Homo sapiens: one gene and its partners. The protein of the gene in region 1 interacts with the protein of each later gene in a pairwise test. Each region holds a gene or a part of one and is shown in the gene's direction. Other genes may lie near its edges.

Region 1 (4,383 bases):
GGTATTTTAGAACTTAGTTTGTTGTCCCATAGCTTTGTCTCTTCCAATTTGGATTCTCAGTGGTGTGGCCCAAAGCATTCCTAGAAATGAACACATTTGGGAGAGATGAGTCATTGTGTTTTTCTGGGCTCTTGGGCCAGGGCTACTTTCAATTTGAACATTTTCATGAGTGGAGTTTCAAGATGTATTTATACAATTCTTACGATGGTGAGACAACGTAACACCTTTGACCTAGGACTAAAATGAACATGGTCCAAAAACGTCTTCATTGTCCACTTGACACCTACTGAAAGAGCAGGTGTCATCAAATTTACAGAAGGCATGATTACAGCAACCTTAATGTTGGCAGCATTTGGGATTCAACTTTATTATTCCAAAAAATTAATTTAATGCTTTTTAAGAACACTTACATTAGATGTACCTATATACCATCTAATTTCTCTATTCCAGGCACCAAAATAGGTAAAATTACCAAAGAAAAATATTGCCCTTCCTTGAGGAGTGAAATTACTTAGGTGTGTCCCCAGTTGTCCGATATAGTCCAGTATTCCTTCCTGTTAGGTGAAAGTTTTGAGCTCTGTGGACCTCAGCCTTCCCTGAACACTGTCAGTGTTTTATAAATTTCTGTTGGCCAGTGAGATCCCAGTGAAGACAAGCCCTGTTGAATGACTGTTGACAGGACTTTAGATGAAGTGACCACGCAGCCTCATGAAAATAAACTTAGGGGAATTTCCGAAAGTTCTCCTAACAGTTTCTCGTGGAAATCCCAGGGCTGTTTGTTTTGTTTTGGTTTTGCAACAAATGAAGGCTCAGAGCTACATTTCTTTCTTTGTAACACTGAGAGAATATTCTAATTTTTCATTTTTGAAGTTTTAACTTATAAACTTAATAAATATGTTTAGAGTACATTTAAATATAGAGGAGCTGTTACTCTAACTTCTGTGGATCTAACAGATGACCACCAAATGAGTGACTTGCTACAAATTTTTTTTAAAACATTACTGAGAAGATGTTAAACAAATCTGTGTCGGTAGGCATAAAAGGACTTTTTTCCTTTACTACAGGCATGTATAAAGGAAATAGAGAATATTTTGGTTTAAAAAAAATTTTTACACTAGCTGCAGGCTTTTTGAGTTTGTGGAACATGGAATGTTTGAACTTTTTAAAAAGAAAACTGTTTAAAAGGAATTGCAAAGATATTTAACTCTCCAAACTAATGATCTTTATAAAGTGTTTTTGTTTGAAGATTATTAAGGGAATAAAGATCAACTAAATTCATGTATGATAGCCTAAATTTTATTTTACAACCCTTTATTTTCATGTGGGCTTTATCTTTTTACATTATTCAAAAATCTGCTGGAGAGATATTAGTTTAGAACTATGCAATGTAGATTACCAGGGAAAGCCAGTCAATTAGGTTTTTTGCTTTAAAAACAAAACTTTGGAGGACAACAATTATTTCTAAAACTGTGCAGATGCTCCCATATCTTTAGAAAAAAATAAATGTAAGTAGGTTGTGTGTTATATTTGGGTGAGGTCATTTCCTGAGATGAAAAAAAATTAATAGTGTTGGTAGGTAGTAACACTCTAAACAAAAATTATCCAAATACCTCGTATCAGGCTTTTCTGCAATATTGCAGTGTAATTTTATTTTACTCTTTTACTGAATTCTGTGAAAAGGATTACATTTACAAAACCAAGTTGTTTTAAGATAGATAGGAGTCTAAAGTATTATCCTTTCAGAGACGCACAGGTAGGGGGATCACTTTGTTTATTAATTTTGATCACTCAGCATTATAGGAGGTCTGGTGGTCTAAAGCAGACTCTAGAAGCTGCCCCTGGAGATCTGTCTATAGATTCTCCATTGAGACTCAGGACCCACCCACCCATGGCTTCGTTCTTGCCCAGGAGGCTTGAGGAGAGAAGTTCTAGACAGGAAATGCAAGGGCAGAGGTCTTCAGGGCCTAGCAGTCCCTGTAAATAAGTAAAGTAATCTTGGTTGTAGAACCCAAAATCAAATTTATAAAAACAGTGTGTGGGACAAACAAGATGCACTGTGAGCTGAATTTAGTCCTTGGGTGCCAGGATGGAGAGCAGTCCATACTCCTTATTTTTGCTCAAACCCACAGTCCACAGGCTGTGCCTGAATCTAAAACTAAAAATATAGACTGTGTTTGATAGAAGCAGAAACATAAATGGAAGCAATCTTTTGGGGCAAAAAACATGATCTAGGTAAAAAAAAAAAAAAAATTCAATACGTAATTTTAATCTGGATAGAGACCCCATAAGCATAAGAATGGTGAAATAAAAGCCTCCTTTCTATGACCTTTAAGAAGAATTTTCTTGAAAAGAAAACTCCTTGGGAGTTTTTATTTGCACTGGTAAAATTTCAGACATCTTATAAAAGCCCTATTGTGCACATATTCCCTCTTGAGTGGTCTGGAGATATGCTGGGCATGGTTGGAGCCCAGTCATGGTGTAGGTGGAAGAGGGTAACCGGAGGGCTTGAGTCCCCCTTCTAGTTCTGACCCTGCCTCCAACTAACTCATAACTTTGGATAGGTCACTTTAGCTCTCTGGACTTCATTTCCCTCATCCGTGTGGTCTGAGGTCTTTTTCAGGCCTATGAATCTATAATCTCAATGTTAGTAGGCCTCTGGAATTTTATTGGCTATTGAAAACTTGATGGTCCTGAAGATTCTCTGAGTATTCTTCAAGGTCAGGTTAATTTCTTCCCACTCAGCTGGGTGGCAGAGTGAAAAGAGAGTGGAGGACAAACATAAGTGGGATAATGATAGCAGAAGCAGATTTTATCTTAGCCAGAGAGTCCAAATTAAAGTCAAGTTTTTATCCTCAGAGAGTCACTGCTATAAGCTCTGGTCCCAGATTGCTTTTCCACACCTATACATTAGAGAAGCTTAAGAAACCAAATGCTGCATTTAACCTTGGCCTCCCACGTACCATCTTGCATGGCAGGACGCAGGATAATCTTTTCCTTTTCTTGTTCTATTGCACATTTTAATAAATAACAGAGGGAGAGAGAGATCAGTAGGAATTGGACAGTGAAAACTATCTGTGCTTATATGAGGAATGAGGGGCACGGTCACCTCCTCGGAGGTGAAGTTGCTTGAGAGCGTGAAATGTATTCTCAACCATGTGCATTTGCTAATGGAAAGGTCTAGTTACCACTCAGGCACAGCAGAGTAAAACTGCATCGGAATCCCACCTCTGTTGCGCAGTGGGCATTGCCTTCTGGTCTTCCCATTTGAGATATTTTCCCACTGGCAAACTTAGTACTAAGTTCCAAAGTGCATACATAATGGGAGAAGGTGGTACATTATCACTTTTTAAAATAAAGAGCCCAAAGCCTTGGGAAGGAGCTAGACCTACGGGACTTTCAAGTTCTCTAAAGCAAATGGTCTCCAATCATGGGTCTGCCCTATGGAAAAGACCCAGTGTCCTAGGCCAAACCCCCTCCCCCCCCAGCAATTAGTCTTAATCGGTTTACCACAATATTACTCAAGGCTCTGTGGGACTAGGTTTGTTTTTTCATCTATAAAAGGGAGGGGGTAAAATTAAATACTTTCTAGAACTCCTTCAGTTCCATTGGAGTTTTATGTTACAAACCCCTAAAACTGTGTAGAGTTGGGTGACTCTGTGGGTGTATTCATATAACTCCTTTGTGTGGCTACTGTAAATATAGAACTCAGACATCTCTCTACCTACACAGGGCTAAATCACTACGCAGAATTCTCCTAGCCAGGACTGAGATGATGGTGAGGCTTGGAAGCACTCATCTCAGATGCAGAATTTAAGGGTGTACTCAAAAATTCAGATAATGTTTGAATGAAATATTTTCAAAAATCAAAATGAACGCCAAAAGTCTATGAACAACAAAATTTCAAATTTTTAAATGCAGGATCAGTAACAGTATTGAGCCATATTGGAGTCTGAGGCAAAAGAAAAAAATCAGTCATATGAACATTTAGTGATCATGAATTTTTGGCACTCATTCTTAAAATATTGTAGTAAGGTCTTATTCATCTTGATTACTACGTTTCTGGACACACCTTTAAATTTGGTTCCTGAAATGAGTGCCTCATTCATCTCACCCTCATCCCTCTCAGCTTTGCTACTGGCTGTCTAAATGATTTAGTTAGCAAAAATCCGCCAAAGTCAATGACATTCTGTCCATTGTAAATTTCGGCCAGGTCTTTGATCTCACTTTCTAGTTGAACTTGAACATTGCACCAAATTTTGCACAGTAGAAAAACAAATGCATGTTGGATAACAAATTGGGGCAAGGAAGGGGCTAGAAATCCATCTTCTTCATTGCACAGATCTAATAAAGCAATTATTTTTGATGGAACTGAAATGTTATGAC
Region 2 (4,383 bases), on another chromosome or scaffold:
TTTACTTTCTTGCTCCGTGGGAAATAAACCCATGAACAGTATATAAACCAAAACTTTGATGTTGAAAACTTTATTTTAAATTATCAGTTCAACTAGTAAATTTTTAAAAATCTGTGTGTATCAGATGGTGTTAAAGTTTATGGCTATCATAACTAGTAATATGAGTTAATGTTGAATCTTTTTTGATATAAATTGGAAAAACATAATATTTGAGGTTTTGGAAACATTAATAATTATGTATATAATTTTTGTCTTCCATTATTTATTCAGATTCTGGATTGTCATTTTTTATTTAGACTTTTTCCAAAACAAATCTTTATTTTTCCTATAGGTGAAAGCACTGAAAGAGAAGATTGAATCTGAAAAGGGGAAAGATGCCTTTCCAGTAGCAGGTCAAAAATTAATTTATGCAGGTATGAATTAAATATTAAAATTAACATGCCATGTCTTGATATTCTTTTAGTTTTAGAAATGTTATCTTATATATTGTAGTATATTCAAATTGTCAGAAAAATGATTGTACAAATAAAAGCAGTGAAAGAGCAGTCATTTGAATCTAATATTAATATTCAATCTTCTCTTTATTCACATTTGCCCTGTGTATTTTTCCATCAAATGGTATTAGTTTTGTTTTATCTTTTGTAAGCATCGTGTAACTGGCTTTTGTTTTTTTAATCAAACGGAGCTTTTTTTTTTAAATTGAATTGAAACCATTTATACTGATTGTGTTATTATTAGTATGCTTGGAATCATTCCTGTAAAATTATTTTAACCAAAACTAACTGAAGAGTACAGAAAAAACACATCACACAGACACCTACAGGAAGAAAAAAAATTAATATTCAGATTATGTAAAGAATTCTTAGAAATCAGTAAGGAAAGGATGACCAATAAAGCAACAAAGGATAAGAGTAGGAATTATACATTTGACTAGCCTCACTAATAACCAGGAAAATGTATATTAAAAATACATTTGATATCCAAATTTTTAGAGAAAATGCTTTCATTGTAGATGTTAGTAAGGTGGGTGTTTGATCACCCATGGATTCTTCTCTTTTTCTGAATAGTGTTTCCTAAAGTGAGACAGCCTGGAGGAAATGCTAACCTGGTGATTCAGTCCCATTATTTTTATAGGTCAGAATTCAGAAGCCTAAAGAAGCGGACATAAAATTCAAATTTCCAGTTTCTTGTTTTGGCCTGTTTTCTCATTCCTATCCATATTCCTTTCTGACTTAATGTTAGCAGCTTTTGATTCAATAGCTTTTTAAAGGTGGAAAACTAAATTCATGTAGCAAGAAACACTAGAGAGTCCTAGCTACCTAATAGTGACCTTCAGCACGACCACAGTTTTGTGTACTTCGTGCATTTCTAAGTTCTGTAGCATCTTGCCCTTTCTTGTGTATCATGTCGTTTTCTGAAGTACTTTTAGTATCTTGCTTTGATAGTGTTAGAACATTTCTGATTTATCAGATATCAGTATTTTGGGGAGCAGGAAATTTGTTTCTCTCCCTTTCTTCATATCATAAAAGAATATAGGTTATTTTCCAGAGGACCCCTGTGCAATCGGAGTATTGAATTTTCTTTATCTTCATGATCTCCTCCTTTTCAGGGCCTCTTTCATATTTCCTTGCCCAGTAAGTCTTTTATATAATCAATACATTTGTAAAAATTGATTGTCATTCTATATACACTATATAAGTTTGACATCTTTTAGTCAAATGCTTATGCTTTTTAGTTTTATTTGTTTGAGAGAGGGTCTTGCTCTGTCACCCAAGCTGGAGTGCAGTGGTGTGATTATACTCGCTGTATCCTTGAACTCCTGAGCTCAGGTGATCCTCCTGCCTCAGCCTCCCAAGTAGCTAGGACCATAGGCATGTGCCACAATGCCTGGCTAATTTTGAATTTTTTTTTTTCATAAACAGGGTCTTGCTATGTTGGCCATGCTGGTTTCAAACTCCTGGCCTCAAGCTATATTTCCTCCTCAGCCTACCAAAGTGTTGGGATTACAGGTGTGAGCCACCATGCCCTGCCACTTAGGAGTTGTTTTATTTTTATCTTGATTGATTGGTTTTTCTTTGGGAAAAGTATTAACTGATAGAATTTATGTTGGTGATTCATATTTTAATATTTCTGAAATATTCATATTTCGAGTAGAAAGTTGTTTTAACTGAAGTGTAAGAGAAAGATTATGCCTTAAATGATTTTTTTTTCTCTTAATGTATTAGGCAAAATCCTCAATGATGATACTGCTCTCAAAGAATATAAAATTGATGAGAAAAACTTTGTGGTGGTTATGGTGACCAAAGTAAGTTTCAACCTCATTCTGTATATCTTTATGCATGTAGGTCTTTTTAAAAATGATGATCACAAGTCCACACAATGGACACAGTTTATACACATCCATAGTGGTGTACACTTAACTACTATGAAAGGTTTTTAAGAATTTACCTTAAGTGAAACATAAAGTTATTAATGTTTTACATTAATTACACATTAAACTATAATATAGTTTTAATAAAATTTTATGTAAATTAAAACAATTGAAAAATAAAATGTCATGTTAAAATTATTTTTGCTACAGTAGTGAAATCATTATATAATTCTTTTAAAATGTCTTTATAAGTGGAATAAATGTTTATTCTGTAGTTTTTGTAAGCTTGCCTTAAATAGACCTGCTAAATTACGTACTAGTCCTAACAGATTCCTCAAGACAGAAAAGGCATGAAAGCTTATTATTACAGTGATAGTTCTTAGTGAAAGAATATGTTTTTAGAAACTAAAAAAAGGGAAAAGATAACTAAAGAAATGATGGAATGATTTTTATGAGGAAGTTTTTTTTGTTTTTGTTTTGTTTTTTTTTTTTTGAGACGGAGTCTCGCTCTGTTGCCCAGGCTGGAGCGCAGTGACGCTGTCTTGGCTCACTACAAGCTCTGTCTCCCGGGTTCATGCCATTCTCCTGCCTCAGCCTCCCTAGTAGCTGGGACTACAGGCGCATGCCACCACGCCCGGCTAATTTTTTTGTATTTTTAGTAGAGACAGGGTTTCACCGTGTTAGCCAGGATGGTCTCGATTTCCTGACCTCGTGATCCGCCCGCCTCGGCCTCCCAAAGTGCTGGGATTACAGGCGTGAGCCACCGCGCCCAGCCTGGAAGTTTTAAACAGATACTTTTTTGTGATTTAGTAGGCTGGAATGTATTTGGAACAATTTATAAAATTAAATTTTTTTTAAAGCAGAGAATGAACATGGATTTTTTTAAGAGACTATTTATATACTTGTTTATTTAAAGATATATAATGCAGTGTAGAATTAAGAGACAAATGGAGAAGTGGTACTCATGACATTCATTTTTAGGATTGGATTGTCATAATCTGAGAAAGAACAGTGTTACTTGTAGCACTGAAAATGAGTTTAAATCACTAATTGAAACCACTTCATCAAAGGCCAAAAGTGGATTAAATGTGGGTTTTTTCTCAAAGTCACAAAATAGTTAATAGTAATAGAAAATAGAGTCGAAGAAATAAATTCTAATTACCACATGCTTTTGTACTGGGAGCAAGCAGCTAAATAGTTTACAAGTGTTGAACATTTTTTAATTCATTAAGAACCATGTTGATTTTGCTATACTTAAGAACTTAAGTCATTATATGTTAAGTTTAAAAACAAGCAGAATCGTGAGGAAACCTTGTATCATCTAGGTTTTTTTATTCAACTGTGGTAAAATATAACAAACTTCCAGTTTAATCATTTTAAGTGTACAGTTCAATAACATTATAGTTACATTGTTTTGCAGCTATCACCATCATATAAGTGGAATCCTATGGTATTTGTCTTTTTGTGACTGGCTTATTTCACTTAGCATAATGTCATTGAGGTTCATCTGTCTATGTTATAGCTTGTGCCAGAATTTGCTGAACTTTTAAGACTGAATACTATCCTATTTTCCTATCTAGTTTTAGCATACATAGTACATAATGGGAAATGTGATAGCCACACATTTAAATATGTTTTGTTACTGGTCTTAGTTTCTTTTAATATTACAGTGATCCTGACTGTTTAGAACACAAGAATTAAGCAGAAAAAGTCTCAATAGGTGCGTGTGTTTGAGGAATAGATACTTGAAGCCTATCATTATATTGCATACAGTCCTTTTGTTTTTCCTTAAAGTCTTTTATTCCTAATATTACATAGGATTCTAATGATATTTATGATTGTTTTATTTGAAGTTAATAGAGGACAACTATGAAAAGGGAGGGAATGCTGCTACAGTAAGGCATTATGGAAGCACTGAGAAATGACCTTATTAATACAAAGAAGGGAAAGGAAAAAGCTATTAAGATCAAAAGCAAGAATAAAAACTAAAAAGCAGAGAAGGGCTTGGTACT
Region 3 (4,049 bases), on another chromosome or scaffold:
GTCAAATTCAGAGAGACAGAAAGTAGAACCCTGCTTGCCAGGGCCTAGAGGGAGTGGGGAAGGGGAGTTGTTGTAGAGTTTCAGTTTCACATGATGAAAACGTTTTGGAGATGATTGGCGGTGATGGTAGCACAACACCCTACCGAAAATGTTTAAGATGGTCAATGTTATGTGTATTTCACCACAATTTTTAAAAAGTCACCAGGGGCTGATGACCTTTAAAGAGGCTCTCCAGATGGTTGCTGGCCCCTGGGCGCTTCTTTGAGACTGTTGAATCTTTAACTCTTAGGTTTCACGCTATGATAAACAAACCAACAACAACAAAAAAAGTGTGGCTCATGTCTGTAACCCCAGCACTTCGGGAGGCTGAGGCCAGTGGATCACTTGAGGTCAGGAGTTCAAGACCAGCTTGGCCAACATGGTGAAACCCTGTCTCTACCAAAAAATACAAAAATTAGCCGGGCGTGATAGCACATGCCTGTTGTCCCAGCTACTGGGGAGGCTGAGGCGGGAGGATTGCTAGAACCCAGGAGGCAGAGATTGCAGTGAGCCAAGATTGTGCCACTGCATTCCAGCCTGGGTGACAGAGCAAGACTCCATCTCAAAACAAACAAACAAAAAGCAAAGTTGGGGGGAAACAAGAAGGGGGGCACTCTTGCCGAGTCTCAAAGATTAAGAAACAACAGAAAAAAAGTGGTCCCATCTGGAGCCAGGATGTCCAGCCACTTGTCCACTGAGTCCCCACCCCGCTGCCTGGACCCTGGGGTCTCTGGGCTTCCCTCCCCTCTGGGGAGGAGAGATTGTACAACCCCAAGCCTTGCAGAGTGGAGCAGTGCCACATCTGGCCTCTAGAACCAAAACAAATCTGGGTCACTTTTTAAAAAAAAGAGTTAGAAATTGGTCTTCCCTTACCTCCCCTCACTGTCACCCCAGCCCTGCAAAGAGAGGGCACCACTGCTCTCCATTTGTAATCTGGGCTCATAGGCACTCAGACCTAGAAGGTGCATGGGTCTTTATTTTACAGATGAGGAGATGGAGGCCCAAAACAGGGGGTGCAAGGAGCAAGGTGCATAGGGTCACACAGCTGACTGGGAACGGAGCCCAAATGCACCCTGGTTCTTTACACCCCTCCTCCTAAGAAACAGCTGTGCGCTGGAGTCCCATAGGCAATGAGCAGGGCTGTCAGCTTCAGTATCACTGCCTCTCCTGCAAGGGGACAGGAGAGTAAGACCAGTGACTGCCTGGAGGGGCCACAGCCAGACTAGAGGAACACAGCCAGCAGGTGAAGTTTATCTTTAGGTATCTCTCTGCATTCCTCTGCCCTTCAGCATCTCACGTCATCCTCAGCACAGAGCCCCGTTTCAGGAACTCACACTCAGACTCCGAGATGGAAATTGGTTCCTTTCCAGGGGTTTACAGAGTCCAGTGCTGAGCATCAAGAAATGAATCTCAATATGTACAACTATTATGGATCCATAAAAATTAAAAATCAAAAAAGTAAAATAAAGTGTAAGAAATGAATCTCAGCTGTTGGAATGCTACTCATCATAGCCCCTAAGTGAAGGAGAGATTTCAAGGTTATTGCTAAGGAAGGGCATTCCTGAAGTCCTTAAATCATGATTCCCAAACTTGGGTTATTCATATTTTATCTGCACAATTATTACCATACCTTGCATTCCACTTGTACAGATATTTAATATTTCTTTATATCACCTTAGCTTTTGAATTTAATTTACATTATTTTATTATAGAATCTATAATATATTATTATATTATTGTATATTAAAAGGAATTGCTATCACTACTATATATGGAACACCGGATTCACTTGCCATAAATAGAAGGTAGCTATAAAAAGATACAAAGGGGCCGGGCACGGTGGCTCACACCTGTAATCCCAGCACTTTGGGAGGCCGAGGCAGGCAGATCACGAGGTCAAGAGTTTGAGACCAGCCTGGCCAACATGGTGAAATCCCGTCTCTACTAAAGATACAAAAAATTAGCTGGGCATGGTGGCACGCACCTATAATCCCAGCTACTTGGGATGGTGGGGTAGAATTCCAAGGTCAGTGACACACTGGCAGGACACACTGGGGGCCTCACAAAGGAGGGGCTCAGCAGGAGAGCCCACCCTTCACTCCTGCCTCTGGCTCTTCTCCGCAAAGCCCAGGCATTTCTCTCTTTTTTTTTTGGAACTGTCTTTTTGAGATAGGGTCTCACTGCAGCCTGGACCTCCTGGGCTCAAGCAATCCTCCCGTCTCAGCTTCCCGAGTAGCTGGGACTACAGGCACGTACCCATCATGCCCGACTCATTTTAACATTTTTGTAGAGATGAGGTCTCTCTAAGTTGTCCAGGCTAGTCTCAAGCTCCTGGGCTCAAGCAGTCCTCCCACGGTGGCCTCCCAAAGTGCTGAGATTACAGGTGTGAGCTACCACACCTGGCAAAAGTTCTTATTTTTACTACTCTGGTTGAATCACAAGTATTTTCTGTTTGGTCATTTGTAAAATGCAGCTATTCTGGGTATCCCACAGGAGTGCTGTAAGGACAGGACTGAATAATGACTAGAAATGCATTTTTTCCACCGTGGTATGTGATTGTCATGGGTAATTAACACTAAGCCCAGGTGGGTGAGTGAGCTGAGGGGCTATAGGGACAGAGCACAGTGTGCACAGAGCTCTGGGAAGACACAGGTGCAGTTGGTGGCCTGCAGACCCCTTCCATTGGATCATTCCATGTGAAGGGGAGTTGGGGCCGTTTGGAGGTAGCAGAGTTCTGGGTGGCAGCCAGGCCCCCAAATAAGCCTCACTACTCTGGCTTTTTTTTTTTTTTTTTTATGAAAAGGAGTCTCGCTCTGTTACCCAGGCTGGTGTACAGTGGTGCAATCGGCTCACTGCAACCTCTGCCTCCCAGGTTCAAGTGATTCTCCTGCCCCAGCCTCCTGAGTAGCTGGGATTACAGGCTACCACCACCACGCTGGCTAATTTTTGTATTTTTAGTAGAGACGGGGTTTCACCATGTTAGCCAGGCTGGTCTCGAACTCCTGACCTCAGGTGATCCACCCATGTTGGTCTCCCAAAGTGCTGGGATTATGGGCATGAGCCACCGCACCCAGCCTCCTCTGGGTTTTTCAGGAGAATCTGCTGCCTCTACTGCAGCCACGCCTTTAAAAAGTGGAAAAACCGGCAGGCAAGAGGCTGCAGATGGCTTGACCAACCTCCCTGTTCCCTTCTAGGTACCAGGATCATCTATGACCGGAAATTCCTGATGGAGTGTCGGAACTCACCTGTGACCAAAACACCCCCAAGGGATCTGCCCACCATTCCGGGGGTCACCAGCCCTTCCAGTGATGAGCCCCCCATGGAAGCCAGCCAGAGCCACCTGCGCAATAGCCCAGAAGATAAGCGGGCGGGCGGTGAGTGTCGGGGCTTGGCCAGGCTCTACCTTGGGAAAGGGAATGTATGAGGCTCCTGGAGTCCATCCACTGGGGGCAATTCCAGGGAGGAGGAACAACAGGGACTCTGCCCTACCCTCTAAGGAGCAGCTCAGAGCCCAGAGGGTGAGAGTAGGGGTGGGGAGGTTGAACTCTTCATTGGTAGCAACTTTCCCCCTGAAAGGGGCCCAGGCACCTCAGGAAAGGTGATCTGGCACCTTTGGGTCATGTAATTAGCGGGGAGTTTGTTTGAAATGGCAGCGGCTGCACACAGCAACTTTCGTAAGCATGTGCCTCTGTATAATTGTCTCTGAAGCATTTCCACTTGGAACACACCCATGATGTTTGTGGTGCAAGAGACAAGTTATCAAAGACACAGTGTACTTGTCCTTTGGGAAATTATATGTCTACAAGATAAGAAATACATCCGGGATGCCTCCTGTTGGGCTGTTGGTCCCCTAGTGGATCTTCATGAAGGCAGGTAGAAACAATGCAGCCAGTTGTCTCTGCCGATTTGACATTTGGTAGCTGGGTCCTTCCTGCTGTCCCCACCTCCCGAGTAATTAGAGCAGCCACTGTGGTAGTGGTGTAAGTGAATGCACTCTTTGTGGCATCCTG
Region 4 (5,112 bases), on another chromosome or scaffold:
ACAAAAAATACAAAAAAAAAAAAATTAGCCGGATGTGGCAGCATGTGCCTCTAGTGCCAGCTACCTGGGAGGCTGAGGAAGGAGGGTCGCTGCAGTGAGCCATGATTGTATCACTGCTCTCCAGCCTGGGTGACAGAGTGAGACCCTGTCTCAAAAAAAAAAAAAAGTCATCCTTGAGGCATCTTTCAAGCCTGATCAGGGTCACATTTTACAAGATGACTGCACAGATTTGGCAGAGGATGCTTGATGAGGCCGAGGCAGGAAAGCCTGCTGGGAAACATTGCAATAGTCCAGGCCAGGTAGAGAAAACACAGGTGAGACCCAAAGTGAGAAGGGCATGGAGGGCCAGGCTAAGAAATTTAGACTCTCAGATTCTCCACCCAAGAGGATTCTGGGCCTTAATAAAGTTGGTAGCTGCTACATTAGATCTGCCCTTTGGGCCGGGCGAGGTGGCTCACACATGTAATTCCAGCACTTTGGGAGGCCGAGGCGGGTGGATCACCTGAGGTCAGGAGTTCGAGACCAGCCTGGCCAACATAGTGAAACTCTGTCTCTACTAAAAATACAAAACTTAGCCAGGCGTGGTGGTGGGCGCCTGTAATAATCCCAGCTACTCGGGAGGCTGAGGCAGGAGAATGGCCTGAACTCGGGAGGTGGAGCTTGCAGTGAGCCGAGATCACGCCACTGCACCCTAGACTGGGTGACAGAGCGAGACTCCGTCTCAAAAAAAAAAAATACAAAAAAAATTAGCTTGGCATGGTGGACACCTGTGGTCCCAGCTACCTGGGATGCTGAGGCAGGAGAATCACTTGAACCTGGGAGGCAGAGATTGCAGTGAACCGAGATCACACCACTGCACTCCAGCCTGGGCAACAGAGTGAGACTGTCTCAAAAAAATAAAATGTAATAAAATAATAATGTCAATGCACACCCCAGAACTTCATCTAGCTTGTTCACCATTATGTTCCCAATGCAGTGATGCAATCATGGCTCACTGCAGCCTCAAACTCCTGGGCTCAAGCAATCCTCCCACCTCAGCCTCCTGAGTAGCTGGGACCACAGGCATGCACCACCACATCCAGCTAATTTTTGTATTTTTAGTAGAGATAGGGCCTTGCCATGCTGCCCAAGCTGATCTTGAACTCCTGGCCTCAAGTGAATCTCATGCTTTGTCCTCCTAAAGTGCTGGGATTACAGGTATGAGCCACCTCGCCCAGCCAAAACCTTTTTTTTTTTTTTGGAGATGGAGTCTTACTCTGTCACCCAGTCTGGAGTGCAATGGCGGGATCTCGGCTCACTGCAACCTCCACCTCCTGGGTTCAAGCAATTCTCCTGCCTCAGTCTCTGGAGTAGCTGGGATTACAGGCATGTGTCACAATGCCAAGCTAATTTTTGTATTTTTAGTAGAGATGGGGTTTTGCCGTGTTGGCCAGGCTGGTCTTGAACTCCTGACCTCAGGTGATCCGCCTGCCTGGCCCTCCCAAAGTGCTGGGATTACAGGTGTGAGCCACCTTGCCCAGTCAAAACCTTTTTTTTTTTTTTTTAAATCTCAGATCCTGAGAATGACCCTATGAGGTAGGTATAATGTAATTTTCATCTCATGAATGAGGTTCAGAGAAGTCAGGTGACTTGCCCAGGGCCACACAGCTAGTGGGCAGAGAGCTGGGATTTGAGCTGCAGTGTGCCCATAGCCCTTCTGTATACCCTGCCTGTCTCTTGAGTGTGCCCCATAACCCCAGCCTCACCTTGTGGTGGCAGATGTGGCCTCCCCACTGAGGTCTTCTCTGTGACATCCCACAGCCCTTATCCTTACCCATGGACACATTCAGGCTGTTGTCCAGAGAGCCTGGCTGTAATTTGAGTCTCATCAAGCAGGGGGTGATGGCGTAGGTGGGTGGGTGACAGCCAGGGCAGGGAGATTTGCCCAGACACTGGTACACAACAGCCTGGCAACCCGTGTGGCCCCGAGGAAGCTGGGAGCCTTTGGGGTGCATCCCCAAGTCTGGGCTGTGGTTCACACCATGGGCAACAAGCAGACAGTCTTCACACACGAGCAGCTGGAAGCGTATCAGGTAGAGGGGGGCAGGATGGGTCCTCAGTGGGTTTGACAACTTTGGTTCCGTGGTCTGGGAAATGGGAACAGAATGCCTTCATCTGGGTGTACCGTCCGCCTGGGTTCCTGGTTCTGCTCTGTGTGTGGCAGCATCAGGCCATCTGTGTGAGTGTGGGGTGGAGGGAGGAGGCCGTGGGAGGAGGCCCCAGAGGCAGGGTTCGGGTTAAGACAACACCTCTCTCCACAGGACTGCACATTTTTCACAAGGAAGGAGATCATGAGGTCAGTCCAGGGAGGAAGGGAGAGAAGATCTGGAAAAACAACTTTCTATTCATTGCTGGAGGATATTTGCAATTTGGTGTGTGTGTGTGTGTGTGTGTGTGTGTGTGTGTGTGTGTGTGTAAGTAGTCTTTCTTTCTTTCTTTCTCTTTTCTCTCTCTCTCTCCCTCCCTCCCTCCCTTCCTTCCTTCCTTCCTTCTTTTCTTTTTTTTTGAGACAGGGTCTGTCTCTATTGCCTGGGCTGGAGTGCAGTGGTGCAATCATGGCTCATTGCAGGCTCGATCTCCCAAGGTCAGGTGATCCTCCCACCTCAGCCTCTCGAGTAGCTAGGACCACTGGTGCGAGCCACCACATGTACCTCATTTTTGTATTTTTTTATAGAGATGGGGCTCTCACTATGTTGCCCAGGCTGGTCTTAAACCCTTGGGCTCAAGCGATCCCCCTGCCTCAGCCTCCCAAAGTGCTGGGATTACAGGTGTGAGCCACCATGCCCAACTGGTATTTCCAATTTGTTGGGACTCAAATGGGGAAGGGGGGCAGGTGTGGTCAGTGGACAGAGGCAGAGATGGAGAAGCTGACAAGTCACATCTTGTCATACTGTCCCAGTCTCTAGGCTGATGAGCTTGGGCTTTCTCCCAAGGGTGGCAGGGAGCTATGGAGCATGCATGAGCAGGGGAGAGACCATCAGCACGTTAGAAAGATTCTCCTGAGGCTGGGCGCGGTGGCTCATGCCTGTAATCCCAGCACTTTGGGAGGACAAGGTGGGTGGATCACCTGAGGTCAGGAGTTTAAGATCAGCCTGGCCAACATGGTGAAACCCCATCTCTGCTAATAATACAAAAATCAGCTGGGCGAGGTGGTGGGTGCCTGTAATCCCAGCTACTCAAGAGGCTGAGGCAGGAGAATTGCTTGAACCTGGGAGGTGGAGGTTGCAGTGAGCCGAGATCACGCCACTGTGCTCCAGCCTGGGTGACAGAGCTAGACTCTGCCTCAGAAAAACAAAATGAAAGATAAAGATTCTCCTGAGACTGGGACTTGAGGCTGGGAGCCCAGGTGCAAAGTCCAGAGCCCAGTCTGGGTTGTGGGCTTGGCATTAAGATGAGGGTGTGAGGAGGTGGCCCAAGGCTGCTGCAGGTCCCTGGCGTGACCCAGCACGATGGGCACAGATGAGTATCCCACATCATCACTCGGCCTGTGGGGCCATTGCCCAGGGGCCCCGACCCATGAACTTGGAGCTATGAAACCCAAGCTGGCCAGGGTTCAGCTGCAGTGTGATCGGGGCCAAGGCCCCAGTTGTGTAGTAACAGGACATCCATTATTGATGGCCACACCTTTTACTAGTGAGCCCCATTGTTTGGGTGAGGACAGCTTGCAGGGTCACCTCGGCCATCACGATCAAATTACTGATGGGGAAACTGAGGCTCAGACAGGGCGGGGCTGATCCCAGGCTGAAGGGTAAATGCACAGAGCCCCAAGGCCCCAAGGACAGACATTTTGTCTGTCCCAAGCTTCTTGCTTATCAGATAGAATAACCAAGGCACAGAGAGGGAGAGGAGAGGAACATGCTCAGAGCCACACAGAAACCTAAACCCAGGGTATTCCCTGATGGGACCCCGACAGGGAACTGAGTGGTCAGGATGAAAGTTCTAGGTCTCCCCACCCCACCTTCATTGAGTTCCTAGTCATCATATGACCTAGGGACTCATGTCTCTCTCAGAGACAGTCCCTAGCAGCTTGGGGACCTCAGACCCACCAAGGATGGTCTCTGCAAGGCTGCTGCTCAGCATGCCCTAATGAAGGTATGGTGTCACAGGTGAGGGCTTCTGAGTGGAGAACTGGCCTTATAATCTGGATAGTGTGTGTGGTATTCAGTTATTTGCAAAATATCTTTTGTCTGCCCTTTAGAAAAAATGTGACTATTAGCTGTTTGTCTCTGCTCTGCCCCATTGAGGAATCCCTCCTTTTTTTTCTTTCTTTCTTCTTTTCTTTCTTTCTTTTTTATTTTTTATTTATTTATTTTTTTTATTGAGACCGAGTCTCATTCTGTTGCCCAGGCTGGAGTGCACTGGCTTGATCTCGGTTCACTGCATGCTGCGCCTCCCGGGTTCACACCATTGTCCTGCCTCAGCCTCCGGAGTAGCTGGGACTACAGGCGCCCACCACCACGCCTGGCTAAATTTTTATATTTTTAGTGGAGACGGGGTTTCACCATGTTAGCCAGGATGGTCTTGATCTCCTGTCCTCGTGATCCACCTGCCTCGGCCTCTCAAAGTGCTGGAATTACAGGCGTGAGCCACCGCGCCCGGCCTCTTTCTTTCTTTTTTCTTTTCTTTTTTTTTTTTGAGACAGAGTCTCGTTCTTGTTGCCCAGGCTGGAGTGCAGTGACACGATCTCAGCTCACTGCAACCTCCAGCTCCCAGGTTCAAGTGATTCTCCTGCCTCGGCCTCCCGAGTAGTTGGGATTACAGGTGCCCGTCACCACGCCCAGCTAATTTTTTGTATTTTCAGTAGAGATGGGGTTTCACCATGTTGGCCAGGCTAGTCTCGAACTCCTGACCTCTGGTGATCCACCCGCCTCGGCCTCCCAAAGTACTGGGATTACAGGCATGAGCCGCTGCATCCGGCCTCTTCCTCCCATTATAAGGAGAGGAAGGGAAGGTATGAAAGTGAAGGTATCTTTGGAGGCAGGGTCTTGCTGATAACATGACAATATCCAGAGATGTGTGGATTATATAGGATTCTCTGAATGCTTGCTGTGATCTGGCCATAAGCACCCTCCC
Region 5 (4,383 bases), on another chromosome or scaffold:
TGTGCACGCATTTGTTTACTTGTTTATTATTCAAAGCCTTCACTAGGAGGTAAAGCCTGTGAAGAAGTGGGCAGGGTGTTGTTTACAGCTGCATCTCCAGTGTCTAAAAAAGTGCCAAGTACACAGTAGGCACTCAAACGTGTTAAATGAATTCACGATAATCACCTACTTCAAAGGGTCGACGTAAGAACTCGAGGCAGTGATGCTTGTGAAGCCCTTGGTATGGTGCCTGGCACACAGTAGGATGTCGATAAATGTTAGCTCTTACCATTATGTAACAAATCCTCTTAGAATAAGGATGTCCTTCACATTTGCCACAGCTACCACACCTTTCAGACGGAGGGCCCCGCGGTCTCTCAGAGATCTTCTGGGCCAGGCCCCCGTGGGGCTGCGTGTGCTGGGCCTCCAGTTCTAAGGGACCACAGTGCACCCCTTATCAGATGTTTGTGTTTAGACTCTGAAGGAGGCAAATAACTCTAGTTCTTTTGACAACATTTTGGGCTCTGCCACCATTTTATTATGTGAGCAAACATTTGATAGCTGGGAAGCCCATCCCTAATGACAGGCCATAGAATCTCACTGGCGTCTCCTTATCTGCCCTTCTTGTTTGCTCTTCTTTTGAAACCTGCAAGGTCACAAGCCGTTTTCTCTCTCCTCCACCTGAAATCTGAAAATTGGAAAAAGGCTGATAGTGGGAAGTAAAGAGACTTGAGAGTGGGGGTGGGCCAGGGGAGGAAGAGGAGGCAAAGGGTATCAGAGGACCCTGACCAACGTCTCAAGAATGTGGAAGGGTCAGAAGCCTGTCTCCTCACATGCACGCACTGCTCAGCCCCCCTCTTTTTTTTTTTTTTTTTTTTTTTTGTGAGACCAAGTCTTGCTCTGTCGCCCAGGCTGGAGTGCAGTAGCATAATATCGGCTCACCACAACCTCCGCCTCCTGGGTTCAAACGATTCTCTTGCCTCAGCCTCTCAAGTAGCTGGGACTACAGGTGTGCACCACCATGCCCAGCTAATTTTTGTATTTTTAGTAGGGATGTGGTTTCACTATGTTGGCCAGGCTGATCTCGATCTCCTGACCTTGTGATCCACCTGCCTTGGCCTCTCAAAGTGCTGGGATTACAGGCGTGAGGCACTGCGCCAGGCCTTCAGCCCCACTCTTAAGAGTACTGAGGAGCAGCAGGGGCTTGGGCCGAAGAACCCCATGTTAATAATAACAATTGTGCCAAGGACCATGCTCAGGACTCCACAGGTGTTGACTCATCTAATCACACAACAACTCCCATATTATAGGGGAAGAAACTGAGGCACAGAGAGAGTAACTTGTCCAAGAGCACAAAGCTTAGTAGAAGGCTCCTCACCTCCAAGCATGATTGAAAGAGCACATGCTGAGTGGCCACCTAGACAGCTAGTTTGAAGCTGTGGCTCCACACTCTCCTAGTTCTTAAACCATGGACAATTCACTGACTCTCTTTTAGCCTTGTTTTCCTAATTTGTCAAATAGACATAATGGTATCCTCATATAGGGTTATGGTTGGAGCACTGATCAATGCGATAACAGTGGCCTTTAGTGGTATTGGTAGGTGTAAGTGTGTGTGTGTGTGTGTGTGTGTGTGTGTGTGTGTGTGTGTTTGGGGGGATCTTGAGAGAATAAGCCACTAAGTCAAAGGCAGAACCTTAGATGCCGGCAAAAGCAAAAGGGAAGGAGGAGACACAGGGAGACAAAAAGAGACTCCCCAGAAGTGAAAAGGAAAGCAGTGACACTCCATGACAGTTCAAATGAATAAGGCCCAGGCACTGGAGGGCAAGGCTGCCCTGAGTTGGGTGAGGTGGCTTCTCTCGAGGGCTTCTCCAGCCATTCTGGGGTCTCCTGCCCTGGCCCACCCACAAGGATGGCATCAGAGGCCTTCAGCCTTTGGATCCTTTCCCTGGTCCTCTGAGTTTCTTATGCTAAAGTAAGAAACCCGTAGAAAGCACTTTGCAATTTGCAAAGCTCCTTCCTGATGAGTAGTTTGAGTGGTCATTTTCTCGTGTGCTTTCTGGCCTTGCTGCCCTAGGTGAGCAGCACTGGCACACCCTGGGAACTTGTTAGAAATGCAGACTCTTAGGTGCACCCCAGGCCTACAAGTCAGAATTAAACCAGAATCCACATTTTCACAGGCTCTCTGGTACTTGTGGGTCCGTTAAAGTTCGAGAAGCATTAGTATAGGAGGCCTCTGCTCTTAGCGGTCTTAGGAAGAGACCCTTGCTTCCACGAGAGGCAAGAGCTCACCATCCAGCTGCCTTTTCAAGTACACTAAGCACTCTATAAATGCCACTGTCACAGAAAGAGGAGCCCAGCTTCAGGATTCAGGTCAGCAAGTTAAGACTACTTCAAGGTCCCCAGCAATTCACTTCTTTCTTCTGAAGTGGCCAGGAAAGCCGGCTCCCGGGTTTTCCTGCAGGAAGTGTGCCTCAGCATGAAAACTGCAGAACTGAGCAGACACGAGGCCCCCAGCCCTCCACCTGCTGCTCTTTGCTGGTTGAGTTGGGCATCATCTCCCTTAGAGAAGCCAAACTAATGGCCCATGACCCTGCCAAATGACACAGCTGAGCACCCTCTCTCCTCTCTCTCTGCAGTGTCCTCTACAAGCCTGGTGATGCCCACACACCACTTACTTCGTGCGCAACAACAAGGACCCTGTTTTCCACACCATCACCCTCTGGGCAGCTGTCATGGAAAAGCCCAGTGACCTGACCAGCACCTGCGAGAGGTCCCTGCTTACCTGACGGACGTCCTGCTGGCACCTCAGACAATCCACTCTCAGGAGGCGCAGCCCGAAGCCCAGTTTCCCTTCTATGCAGTATTGCCACAATGCCTCTCCCACGATGTCAAGGACTCCTGTCTGTCCTGGAGGTGGGAGACAAGGAACCTCCGAAGAGGAAGCAAGAAAGCCGTACTGTCTATGTTGTGATCCTTCATCGAACAAACTGATGCGAAAACTTGAATCTGTTACTGAAATGAGGAGAGAAGGACATGTGCTATTGAACTGAGCCAAACACACTGTAAATATCCACAGACTCCCTCCCCTGCCCCCATCCCAAATGATCTTGAGATTTCTTTTAAAGAAGTAAATTTGTCCAATGGCTGTAAACTATAAACTACTGTAATTAAGTGCAATTTCCCCTCTGTGTCCTCTCCCCTCTGCCCTGTATATAATACTAAAGTGTCTATTAGTTTTCTTTGTAAAGGTCAGAGTCAAAATTTCAAAAGTGATCTGTCCCCTCTCCCCTCATGGAGAAACATCCTAAGTGGGAAGTGAAGCCCCTTGTCCTCTCCCGCGGGCCTGGACACTTATGGGGACAGCATACCTTGGACTGACTACCAGCTAACTCCAGTCTCCTGACATTAAGACACACCTCTGGATCCCTGGAGGGGCTGAATGTAGTGTGTCAGAGTAACATGCCAGCTTCCTGTGGGCCAGGAGCTCAGCCGTGCACTCCCTAAGAAACCCCAGGGCAGGGAAACTGGCTGTTTGATAGCAGAAGAAAAAGTTGCAGTCTCAGAAAGCCTTCCATTAAAACAATTTATTTTATCACTACCCAGAGTCTCATATTTCTGTCTCTGATACTTTCCCTGCCATGGTTCCACCGAGAACCCCTGGCCCCTGGTCTCCTTGGAATTTTCTGTATACTCCACTGGGATCCTGTAGTGTGTCATCTAGGGGTGTAGAGAGGTGGGTGGCCTTCTCTTGCCGTCATGCTCCCAGTGTCTGTGTAGGCTTTACTGCTGATTGAGGTGAAGAAGAGTTGAATCCCCCAGTAAGACTCCACAAGTCGCTCAGAGGGAATCTGGCCAGAGCAGGAGCTAGCACCCTTTTCTTCCCTGCAACTCACAGGGGTAAAGTCATAGAGTCAATTCTTGGTGGGTGACATGTGATAGAAACAGACAAAAAGTAGGATGAATGAAAACTCTGCGGGTAAATTGTTTAGCCTCATTTAAAGCATTAATTCCAGCCTTTCTTCCTGCCCTCCTTTTCCTTCCCTTACAGCTCTCAGTCACTAAGTGAATGGGCTCTTGTGGACGTCACCTCTTGCCCAAGATTCTCTCTCTGGTGGGGATGCTAAGGAATACAAATAGTCCAAACAGTAAAAAGCCAAAGGCCCAGAGACTCCACCAGCAGGGACTTTACCACAAATAATTCAGTGCTGACTCCAGAAGAAAGGAGGATGGACCTGTCTTCTTTGCTGTTTCCTTTTTTGCCAAACAGCATAGGCCTACTGCCCTGTGGTTCTTCGCTTTTAGGCAGAGCATGTCCCAATGAAAGTGGAAGCAAAGATTGTGCTAACCAGGCCATGAGTGATGGATTTTTTCAAAATCCCATTGTAGTGGGAGATTCAATTCTCA
Region 6 (4,383 bases), about 96 Mb from region 1:
GCTGGGACTACAGGCGCCCGCCACCACGCCCGGCTAATTTTTTTGTATTTTTAGTAGAGACGGGGTTTCACTGTGTTAGCCAGGATGGTCTCGATCTCCTTACCTCGTGATCCACCCGCCTCGGCCTTCCGAAGTGCTGGGATTACAGGCGTGAGCCACCGCGCCCGGCCGGTTTCTGATTTTCTAATCCCTGGGGTCACGGAACAGTATTTGTTTTTCTGCGGTTAGTTTCCTGGCCTTTCCCTGGGGATGGCAGAAGACAAGTCTTGAGAGGTTGTCTCAGTTGGGATTCTTTGGGCTGCCAGGGCCTGGATTATTAAACCACGAAGAAATGCACTCCTCACACCCGGGGAGGTCCGAGGCAGGCAGAGGAGCTCACCATGTCCGCGTGGATTCAGGCCTCTCTTGGCTCTGCTCAGTTTCTTATCTTTCCCTGCCCTCCCCACCTCCTCCGGCTCCTGTGGCTATGGAATGGCAGCTAGAGCAATCGAACTGTCTTTCTTCCTACTCTACATCAGGTAAGACAAAGATTTCCTACGAAAGCTCTTTCTTAAGAGTTAAGGAAGAACTTTTCCGGAACCGCTCCTCCCCTCTCATTGGTTGGAACTGGCCAAATTGCCAGCCTGCTGAGCCAATGACTGGCCATAGAGGGAATCACACTTGGACCAATCAGGTCCAGCCCTTGAAAGGCCGTCAGTTCCCACCCCAAAGAGCACTGGGATCGCTCTGTGAAGGGGAGGTTACCACAACTGCTACCGTAAATGCATTTCTCAGCTTTCAGAACGCTAGTCAGAATGGCCGTGGCCATAGTCTGCAAAGCAGAGCATCAGGTAGCATTTGAGGTCGCCCTGCACGGAGATAAAAGTGGGCCCACAGCTGCTCTTCCAGTATGAGGACGGCCTCAGAACACTGCTCTACCACACGGCCCACGCTCGCTCCTCTAGCCCAGGCGCAGCCGATTCGCATTCTGCACATGCCCTGTGCTTCGTGGACATTTAGCATCCATGGCTTCCGCCTGATACAGGCCACCCCCTTGCCCTGACTTTCCAAATGCTCCTCAGTCGGGGCGCCTTTGAGGAGACGACATGCTAGTTTCCCAGAGTCTCTCTGTGGAGCCTTAGGGCCAGAGAGCGTCCGATTGTCTCTGACCCTGGAGTTACAGCCCTGGAATGCCTCCGTTTTTTAGAAGGTTCCTCAGCTATCAGGCCCAAGCCTGGAGAACGACAGAGATGTCACCCATTCCTGTCCTTCCAGTTTGCAGGCCTAACCAGCAGTGTGACTTGCCCAGAACTCCCAGCTCCTGCTTCAGTGACTGTGTCTCTGTCATCACACATTTTTTCACATTACTCTGCCCTTTGGTCACCTGTTGATGGTCAACCCTCCATTATCTCCCCTGATGCTTCTCAACTGAATCACCTGTGGAGTTTTTTTTTAAAGTCAGGTGCCTGGCTGGGCGCAGTGGCTCACACCTGTAATCCCAGCACTTGGGGAGGCCGAGCAAGGTGGGAGCAATGCTTGAGCCCAGGAGTTTGAGACCAGCCTGGGCAACACAGTGAGACTGCGTCTCTACTAAAAACTAAAAAAAAATAAAAAGGTGTGGTGGTGGTACACCTGTAGTCCCAGGTACTCAGGAGGCTGAGGCAGGAGGATCCTTTGACCCCAGGAGGTCAAGGCTGCAGTGAGCTATGATTGTGTCACTGCACTCCAGCCTGGCAACACAGCAAGACTCTATCTATCCCAGACACACTGAATCAGAGCCTCTGAGGGTGGGGCCTCAGGAATTGCATTTTTAACAAGCTTCCCTCGTGGCTAGTGCAGTAGGTCCTATTGGAGGGAACTCCCAGTGCAGATGTTCAATGGCCTACCAGCTACTGCCTTGGTCCTTTCCCCGACCCCCGAACATGGGTCCACCAGACTGTGGCTTCTGATCTGGTTTTCCTCTGATGTTGGGTCCACCATGAGAAGACATGCGTTCTGTTCCATGATGGCTCAAAAAAAGCCAGAAGATTAGGACCTCATACCCAAGGCTTGTATGAAAGGGCAGCCAAACAGATGTGTTTACAGCCCCAAAGTGCCAAGCCCTGGAGTCTCACATGAAGAAAACGAAAGGAAAATACAGTCATGGGCTACATAAAGATGTTTTGGGCAACAACAGACCACCTATACAATGGTGGTCACATAAGATGATAATGGAGCATATATGGAAACCTGATATATGGCACTCGATATTGGCATTGCACATCAAGTAGGGTAAATAATTGATATTCAGTAATGGAACTTGGATTTTTGGTTTTCCATATGAAAAAATATATATAAATAAATATATGGGCTGGGCGTGGTGATGCCAGTCTGTAATTCCAGCATTTTGGGAGGCCAAGGTGGGTGGATCATCTGAGGTCAGGAGTTCAAGACCAGCCTGGCCAAAATGGTGAAACACCATCTTTACTAAAAATACAAAAATTAGCTGGGCGTGGTGGCGAGTGCCTGTAACCCCAGCTACTCTGGAGGCTGAGGCAGGATAATCGCTTGAACCTGGGAGGTGGAGGTTGCAGTGAGCCGAGATCACACCATTGCACTCCAGCCTGGGTGACAAGAGTAAAACTCTGTCTCAAAAAAGAAAAGATAAATATATGTATATATGCCATCTAGGTTTGCATAAATACACTCTGTGATGTTCACATGACAAAGTTGCCTAAGGACACATTTCTCAGAACTTATCCCCATCAGTAAGTGATGCATGACAGTATCTACCAAATGCCTGAGCAATTCTGCCAAATTTGACTGTGCCAGCACGAACACTTCCCCAGGAAGAACACATCCAAAGAGAAAACAACCAGAATCTAATGTCTCCAAATCATGGAAACAGCTTTTCTGGGTTTTTCAGGGAGGCCTATGGGCTGATGTTTGTTGGGTATTAAGGGAAGCTGGCAGCAGATTCCCTCAGCTGTGGCCAGAAGCAGGGCTCTGCCTGCACTGCTGTGCCCAGGTTTAGGCCAGGCCAGGGCTGGGCGATAAGGTAGGCAGAACAGAGAACTCCCATGCCCGAGGCAGGGACAAAGCCACAGTTACTCCTGCTGAGCAGTGACACCACTGCAGCCCCTGGTCCACCTGGAGAGGTTCTGCTGCAGAACTGTTGTGTTAGAGGCCAGCAGCACGGTCAGATGGGCCCAGGAGGCTCTGGAATGCTCCATTTCAGTTCAGACATGAGCTTCCCTGTGAGTGTGGTGGCACTCTGGAAAGGCTGTGGAGCCTGGTCTGGGGTCCCCTCTCAGGCTGGCTTGTGAGGGGGATTTGCACAGGTGAGCACAATGTGTGGCCTGCGACTTTGGTGGGCTGATTGCTTAAGGACAGGGATTTCAGTTCTGGGTCCCTGTTTCAGGCCTGCCAGGGAGCAACATGTAGCTGATAGGCTTCAGAGCTGATGGACACTGAAGCACAGGTCTTTCTGTGGCCCCTTTCCAGATCCTCTTTGAAATGACCACAGAGATATCAAGTAGAAGGACAACAGAAAATGTCCGGAAAACTAAGAGAGGGGCCAGAGTCCCAAGGGATTCAGTTCCAGGAAGTCAATTGAAGGAAGACAGAAAGGGCAGACACCAATCCTCTTGGAAGAGCTGTGTGTTGCAGGAAGGGAAGAGGAGAGGAGAGACCCTGGCGGAACCTGCCAGTACCTGCCAACTCAGGGTCAGAGAACTTCCTCTCCTCTCCTAGGCGTGATTGCCAGTGCAAAGGAGATGTCAGTTAAAGTAAAGCATGCCCAGTTCAATTTTTAATACAAAAACGTCCCATGCATGATTCAAAACATTCTTATACTAAAAATTATTCATTCTTTATCTGAAATTCAAAATGTAACTAGGCATCCCGTATTTGTATTTGCTAAATCTGGCAGTCATGTAAGTGTAAATCATGTTTCTGTAACATATTTAATATTCTCTAACACATTAGGGGGAAGCAGGATGAAAAACTGTCTAAATAGCAAGATTCCAAATTGGAAATATATATTATAGACCTAGGGAAGTGACTGGAGAGAATTAGATCAATGTGTCAACAATGGATATCTGGGTGGGATTGTTTCTCAGTAATTCTTATTTTCTTGATCTGTTTCTATTTTCCAAAATTTCCACAATGAACATGTATGTCTCTTATAAAGCAGATAATGTTCAATTATGTGCCAGGTATGTCTGTTATAAAGTGGATAATGTTCAAATGTAACTAGATACTTCACATACATTATCTTACTTAATTCTTGGAATAGCCCTATGAGTAGACACTAATGTGATTCCTGTTTTATAGAGGAGGATTTGTGAGATGAAGTAACTTGTCCCAGGTCACACAGCTAGCAAGGGACACAGGCCTGGGAGTTGGCCTGCCTGCAGCCTAACC
Region 7 (4,383 bases), on another chromosome or scaffold:
TACTTTTCAACTTACTAGTACAGCTTTGGCTTCTGGACTATTGTGCAGCCATTTCAAATGAATCATTTTGTCAATGTATCATGAGCCAAAGGACAGATTTGTAAATTCCTTCTTCCTCCTCCACCTCTACAATGTCTTACTATGTTAAATGTTAAGGAATCCTCTATCTGTGGGCTCCTCTGTATGTAATTCCTTTTCTGTGTAGTTTCTTCCATCTTTTGCTTTCATGTAGTGTGGCTCTTCCCTTCCTCAGAGTGATCCCTTCTGTTTTTTTTTTTTCTTTTTTAGACAGAGTCTCTCGCTCTGTTGCTCAGGCTTGAGTGCAGTGGCGTGATCTCGGCTCACTGCAGCCTCCGCCTCCTGGGTTCAAGTGATTCTTGTGCCTCAGCCTCCCGGGTAGCCAGGACGACAGGTGTGTGCCACCACACCCGACTAATTTTTGTATTTTTACTAGAGACAGGGTTTTGCCATGTTGGCCAGGCTAGTCTTGAACTCCTGATCTCAAGTGATCCACCCGCCTCAGACTCCTAAAGTTCTGGGATTACAGGCATGAGTCACCACACCTGGCCAGAGTGATCTCTAAACCTCCTATACTTGGATAAAAATAAAAGGAATAGCATTCTTTTTTTTTTTTTTTCTTTTTTTGAGATGGAGTTTTGCTCTTGTTGCCCAGGCTGGAGTGCAATGGCATGATCTTGTCTCACCACAACCTCCGCCTCCCAGGTTCAAGCGATTCTCCTGCCTCAGCCTCCTGAGTAGCTGGGATTACAGGCATGTGCCACCGCGCCCAGCTAATTTTGTATTTTTAGTAGAGACAGGGTTTCTCCATGTTGGTCAGGCTGGTCTCGAATTCCCGACCTCAGGTGATCTGCCCGCCTCACCCTCCCAAAGTACTGGGATTATAGGCGTGAGCTACTGGGCCCTGGCGACATTCTTTTTCATACATTTACTGGCATTGGAAGAAAAGAATGCAGCAGTCCGTATAGGCTTTTCATCATTCCTCAGGTGCTGCTTGTTCCTAGCTTCCATCTGAAGATTTGTCATTATTTTAATAAAATGTTTTGGCCAGGTGTGATGGCTCACACCTATAATTCCAGCACTTCAGGAGGCCAAGGTGGGAGGATCACTTGAGGCCAGGAGTTTGAGACCAGCCTGGGCAAGATGGCAAGACCCCATCTCTACAAAAACAACAACAACAACAAAAAATTAGCCGGACGTGACAGTGCGTGTCTGTAGTCCCCGCTACTCAGGAAGCTAAGGTGGGAGGGTCACTTGAACCCAGGAGTTTGAGGCTGCAGTGAGCTACAATTGCATCACTGCACTCCAGCCTGGACAACAGATTGAGACCCCCATCTCAAAAAAAACAAAACAAATGAACTTTTGTGTTAGAATGGGGAGAGGGGACGGGCAATGGGGAGGAAAAAGTGTAGTGCTGTGATAATTGTATAGTGGGTTGAAAGTATATTATGAAGGGTATTTTACTTAGAGAAGGAGTAAAAATGTTTAAGTCATAGTAAAAGGACACTCTTAGATTAAAAAGAAAACACGGAGGAGGAGGTAAGGGGGTCAGCAGATAAGAGAGTAAAAATTCTTTGGTGAAAGCAGGTGGAGAATATCCTCAGCAATACTCCCAGCACCTTAAAGTGAATTGGTTTTCTCTCTCAATCTCTCTCGGTGTACTCCTCTATTTGGTATTGTATTTCAATTTGCTTGCACAATAAGACTTGGTTGTTTAGCTCATCTTCTGACTTCCATGAAACAAAATGTTATTGTATTCCCATTTGTAGCGTGAATCTCTCTCAAAAAGACCACTGATCTTAGAAACCTCTGTATTCATGTTAGTAAATGTCACATTTTAGAGGAGAGGAGACTCCTGACCTGAAAATCTAAGCTTGAATCTATAACGTCCTTTAAATATTAGGCCTAAATAAGGTAACATAAGTTTTCAAACCTGATCGACAATCATATTGTCTGGGAAGCTTTTTAAAAATACACATTTCCCAAGTTCCATCTAAATTTCACTATTGATTCTCCTGGAGTCCTTTGTTTTTGTTTTGTTGGGTTTTTTTTGTTTGTTTGTTTGTTTGTTTTGAAGTCCTCTAGATAGTTGATTTTGATAATCAGCCAGATTTGGGAATCCCTGATAGGGAGAATGGTGTGTGCCAAAGTTACATTGTATTGATCAAGTAAGGGCTGCTTGACTCAAGGGTCCCCCTGCGGTGATAAGACCTTTGTGGATCATATACAGATCTCTATCTTTAGTTCAAGTATATTTCTCCATTTTGATAGCCAAGTCACAGCTAGCCTACCCATCATTTTACTGCTGTTTTCTGGTGCTGAATTTTGTTGAGGGGTGGGTTGGGGATGTCACCTTGAGGGGAAGTATTTTTTAAGAAGTGTCTAGACCTGGCTCACACCTTAATCCCAGCACTTTGGGAGGCTGAGGTGGACGGATCGCTTGAGCCTAGGAGGAGACCAGCCTGGGCAACGTGGCGAAACCCAGTCTCTACAAAAAACACAAAAATTAGCTGGGCGTGATGGCATGCACCTGTAGTCCCAGCTACTTGGTAGACTAAAGTGGGAGGATTGCTTGAGCCTTGAGGGTTTGAGGCTGCAGTAAGCTTTGATCATGCTACTGCACTCCAGCCTGAGCAACAGAAGGAGACCCTGTCTCAGAAAAAAAAGTGTCCAGGTTTTGTTGGATAAGAAGGACCAGGGTCCTCTAACTCACTGCAGGGTCTCCTTGCCTAGCTAGTTCTCTTTGGTATGCTTGGTGGTATGTGTAATATGTAGAGTTAAAGATACTAGGCATAAAATAGGTGATTGTGTCAACATCAGAAACAAGAAGAAATGGGAGTGAGGAGAACATGAACTTATTGAGGAGTATTTTTTTCTTTCCTAATGTAGTTAAGAAACATAACCAGAAAGAATAAGATTATTTAACTGAAACATATTTCTAAAACTGAAACAAACATGATACTAAAATAGCTTGTTTATCATTCCCCAATTATGCATTTTTAAAACCTTCACAGAATGTGGCTTCATGTCTCAGGCTTTAACATACTTATTGAGTATGCACACCTCTCTCTGCTAGTTACAGTGTGCCTTACGAGAAGATTTTTCTGATTATCTGTTATTGTGTAACCATTGGCCCAGCTCTGTGTAAACAAGCTCTTTAGCCTGGCCTGCTGGAGGTTGGCTCTTCCCAAGAAAGTTTTTAGAACTCAGAGGAACTGCATGAAGTAGTAGTGAGAACACTTAGCCCTGCATTGCAGAAGTTAACTGATCCTCTCAGCATCACTGTGAGGTAGGTAAGTAAATCTGAACTTGAAACCTAAAGTGCAAGGCTAAACAAGTTGCTTAAGTCCTTGCAGGAGGTATAGCATCAGAAGGTGATTCATACACTGGGATCCCTGGCCCCCAGGCTTGTGCTCAGAAAGATCCTCTGTTCTGTTGACCGCTTGATAGAAAACTGGAATTTGATTTATTAAATGTTTGACATTTTTAATGAAAAGAAATTGATTCAGAAACTTTGTGAATTTTGCTCACTGTTTTGAGAATCTAAAGACCCTTTTTCTTCTTATTTTAGAAGCTGCTAACCTGTGCCAAACCTCCACGGCTGCTACGACACCTGTGACTCTCACTACTCCATTCAGTATAACATCCTCTGTGTCGTCTGGGACTATGTCAAACCCAGTCACAGTGGCAGCTGCAATGAGCATGAGAAGTCCAGTAAATGTTTCAAGTGCAGTTAACATAACCAGCCCAATGAACATAGGGCATCCTGTAACTATAACCAGTCCATTATCCATGACCTCTCCTTTAACACTCACTACCCCAGTCAACCTCCCCACCCCCGTCACTGCCCCAGTGAATATAGCACACCCTGTCACCATCACATCTCCAATGAATCTACCCACACCTATGACATTAGCCGCCCCTCTCAATATAGCAATGAGACCTGTAGAGAGCATGCCTTTCTTGCCCCAAGCTTTGCCTACATCACCGCCTTGGTAAACAGTATTATAAAATCAAAATATGGGTAAAAGTAAATATTTACCAGCAACTTAACTTTTAGTTGATTAAAGCAAAAAGTAAACCATGAAATTGGGAGATTTTATTACATTAGTTAATAAGAGTGTGGTAGCATTTTTCTCCAATTTGGCTGGGATTATTCAAAGTAGGGTGTGTATGTAACTTATCACTGGACCACTTTAGTTTAATCAGAAATTCCTTTTAGCTGACAACATTGCTTAAACAGGATAGTAGTTGGCAAGATGAAATGCCAGAATTAAAACCAATCATAAGTAGAACCCACTTCAAAATAAAAAAACAGCATTACTATTTCTAATCCCAAGGAATCACTTTATTGTAAACACTAGC

The links.
Region 2: the proteins of POU6F2 (region 1) and RAD23B interact in binary tests that used the Homo sapiens proteins (3 or more experiments, as listed by UniProt).
Region 3: the proteins of POU6F2 (region 1) and EIF4EBP1 interact in binary tests that used the Homo sapiens proteins (3 or more experiments, as listed by UniProt).
Region 4: the proteins of POU6F2 (region 1) and CIB3 interact in binary tests that used the Homo sapiens proteins (3 or more experiments, as listed by UniProt).
Region 5: the proteins of POU6F2 (region 1) and HNF1B interact in binary tests that used the Homo sapiens proteins (3 or more experiments, as listed by UniProt).
Region 6: the proteins of POU6F2 (region 1) and STRA8 interact in binary tests that used the Homo sapiens proteins (3 or more experiments, as listed by UniProt).
Region 7: the proteins of POU6F2 (region 1) and VEZF1 interact in binary tests that used the Homo sapiens proteins (3 or more experiments, as listed by UniProt).

What each region holds. Positions count from the first base shown.
Region 1 is NC_000007.14:39,341,177-39,345,559, forward strand, and holds part of POU6F2 (POU domain, class 6, transcription factor 2), read left to right. Parts: intron 1-4,383. UniProt on the Homo sapiens protein: Probable transcription factor likely to be involved in early steps in the differentiation of amacrine and ganglion cells. Recognizes and binds to the DNA sequence 5'-ATGCAAAT-3'. Isoform 1 does not bind DNA.
Region 2 is NC_000009.12:107,299,810-107,304,192, forward strand, and holds part of RAD23B (UV excision repair protein RAD23 homolog B), read left to right. Parts: intron 1-331; coding exon 332-413; intron 414-2,225; coding exon 2,226-2,305; intron 2,306-4,383. UniProt on the Homo sapiens protein: Multiubiquitin chain receptor involved in modulation of proteasomal degradation. Binds to polyubiquitin chains.
Region 3 is NC_000008.11:38,053,848-38,057,896, forward strand, and holds part of EIF4EBP1 (eukaryotic translation initiation factor 4E-binding protein 1), read left to right. Parts: intron 1-3,233; coding exon 3,234-3,413; intron 3,414-4,049. UniProt on the Homo sapiens protein: Repressor of translation initiation that regulates EIF4E activity by preventing its assembly into the eIF4F complex: hypophosphorylated form competes with EIF4G1/EIF4G3 and strongly binds to EIF4E, leading to repress translation.
Region 4 is NC_000019.10:16,170,385-16,175,496, reverse strand, and holds the start of CIB3 (calcium and integrin-binding family member 3), read left to right. Parts: upstream 1-1,971; 5' UTR 1,972-2,021; coding exon 2,022-2,072; intron 2,073-2,300; coding exon 2,301-2,335; intron 2,336-5,112. UniProt on the Homo sapiens protein: Acts a an auxiliary subunit of the sensory mechanoelectrical transduction (MET) channel in hair cells. Plays a role in regulating hair cell MET channel localization and function.
Region 5 is NC_000017.11:37,685,625-37,690,007, reverse strand, and holds the end of HNF1B (hepatocyte nuclear factor 1-beta), read left to right. Parts: intron 1-2,615; coding exon 2,616-2,636; coding exon of another isoform or gene 2,637-2,728; 3' UTR 2,729-3,577; downstream 3,578-4,383. UniProt on the Homo sapiens protein: Transcription factor that binds to the inverted palindrome 5'-GTTAATNATTAAC-3'. Binds to the FPC element in the cAMP regulatory unit of the PLAU gene. Transcriptional activity is increased by coactivator PCBD1.
Region 6 is NC_000007.14:135,246,975-135,251,357, forward strand, and holds part of STRA8 (stimulated by retinoic acid gene 8 protein homolog), read left to right. Parts: intron 1-4,383. UniProt on the Homo sapiens protein: Meiosis-inducer required for the transition into meiosis for both female and male germ cells.
Region 7 is NC_000017.11:57,974,107-57,978,489, reverse strand, and holds part of VEZF1 (vascular endothelial zinc finger 1), read left to right. Parts: intron 1-3,589; coding exon 3,590-4,017; 3' UTR 4,018-4,383. UniProt on the Homo sapiens protein: Possible transcription factor. Specifically binds to the CT/GC-rich region of the interleukin-3 promoter and mediates tax transactivation of IL-3.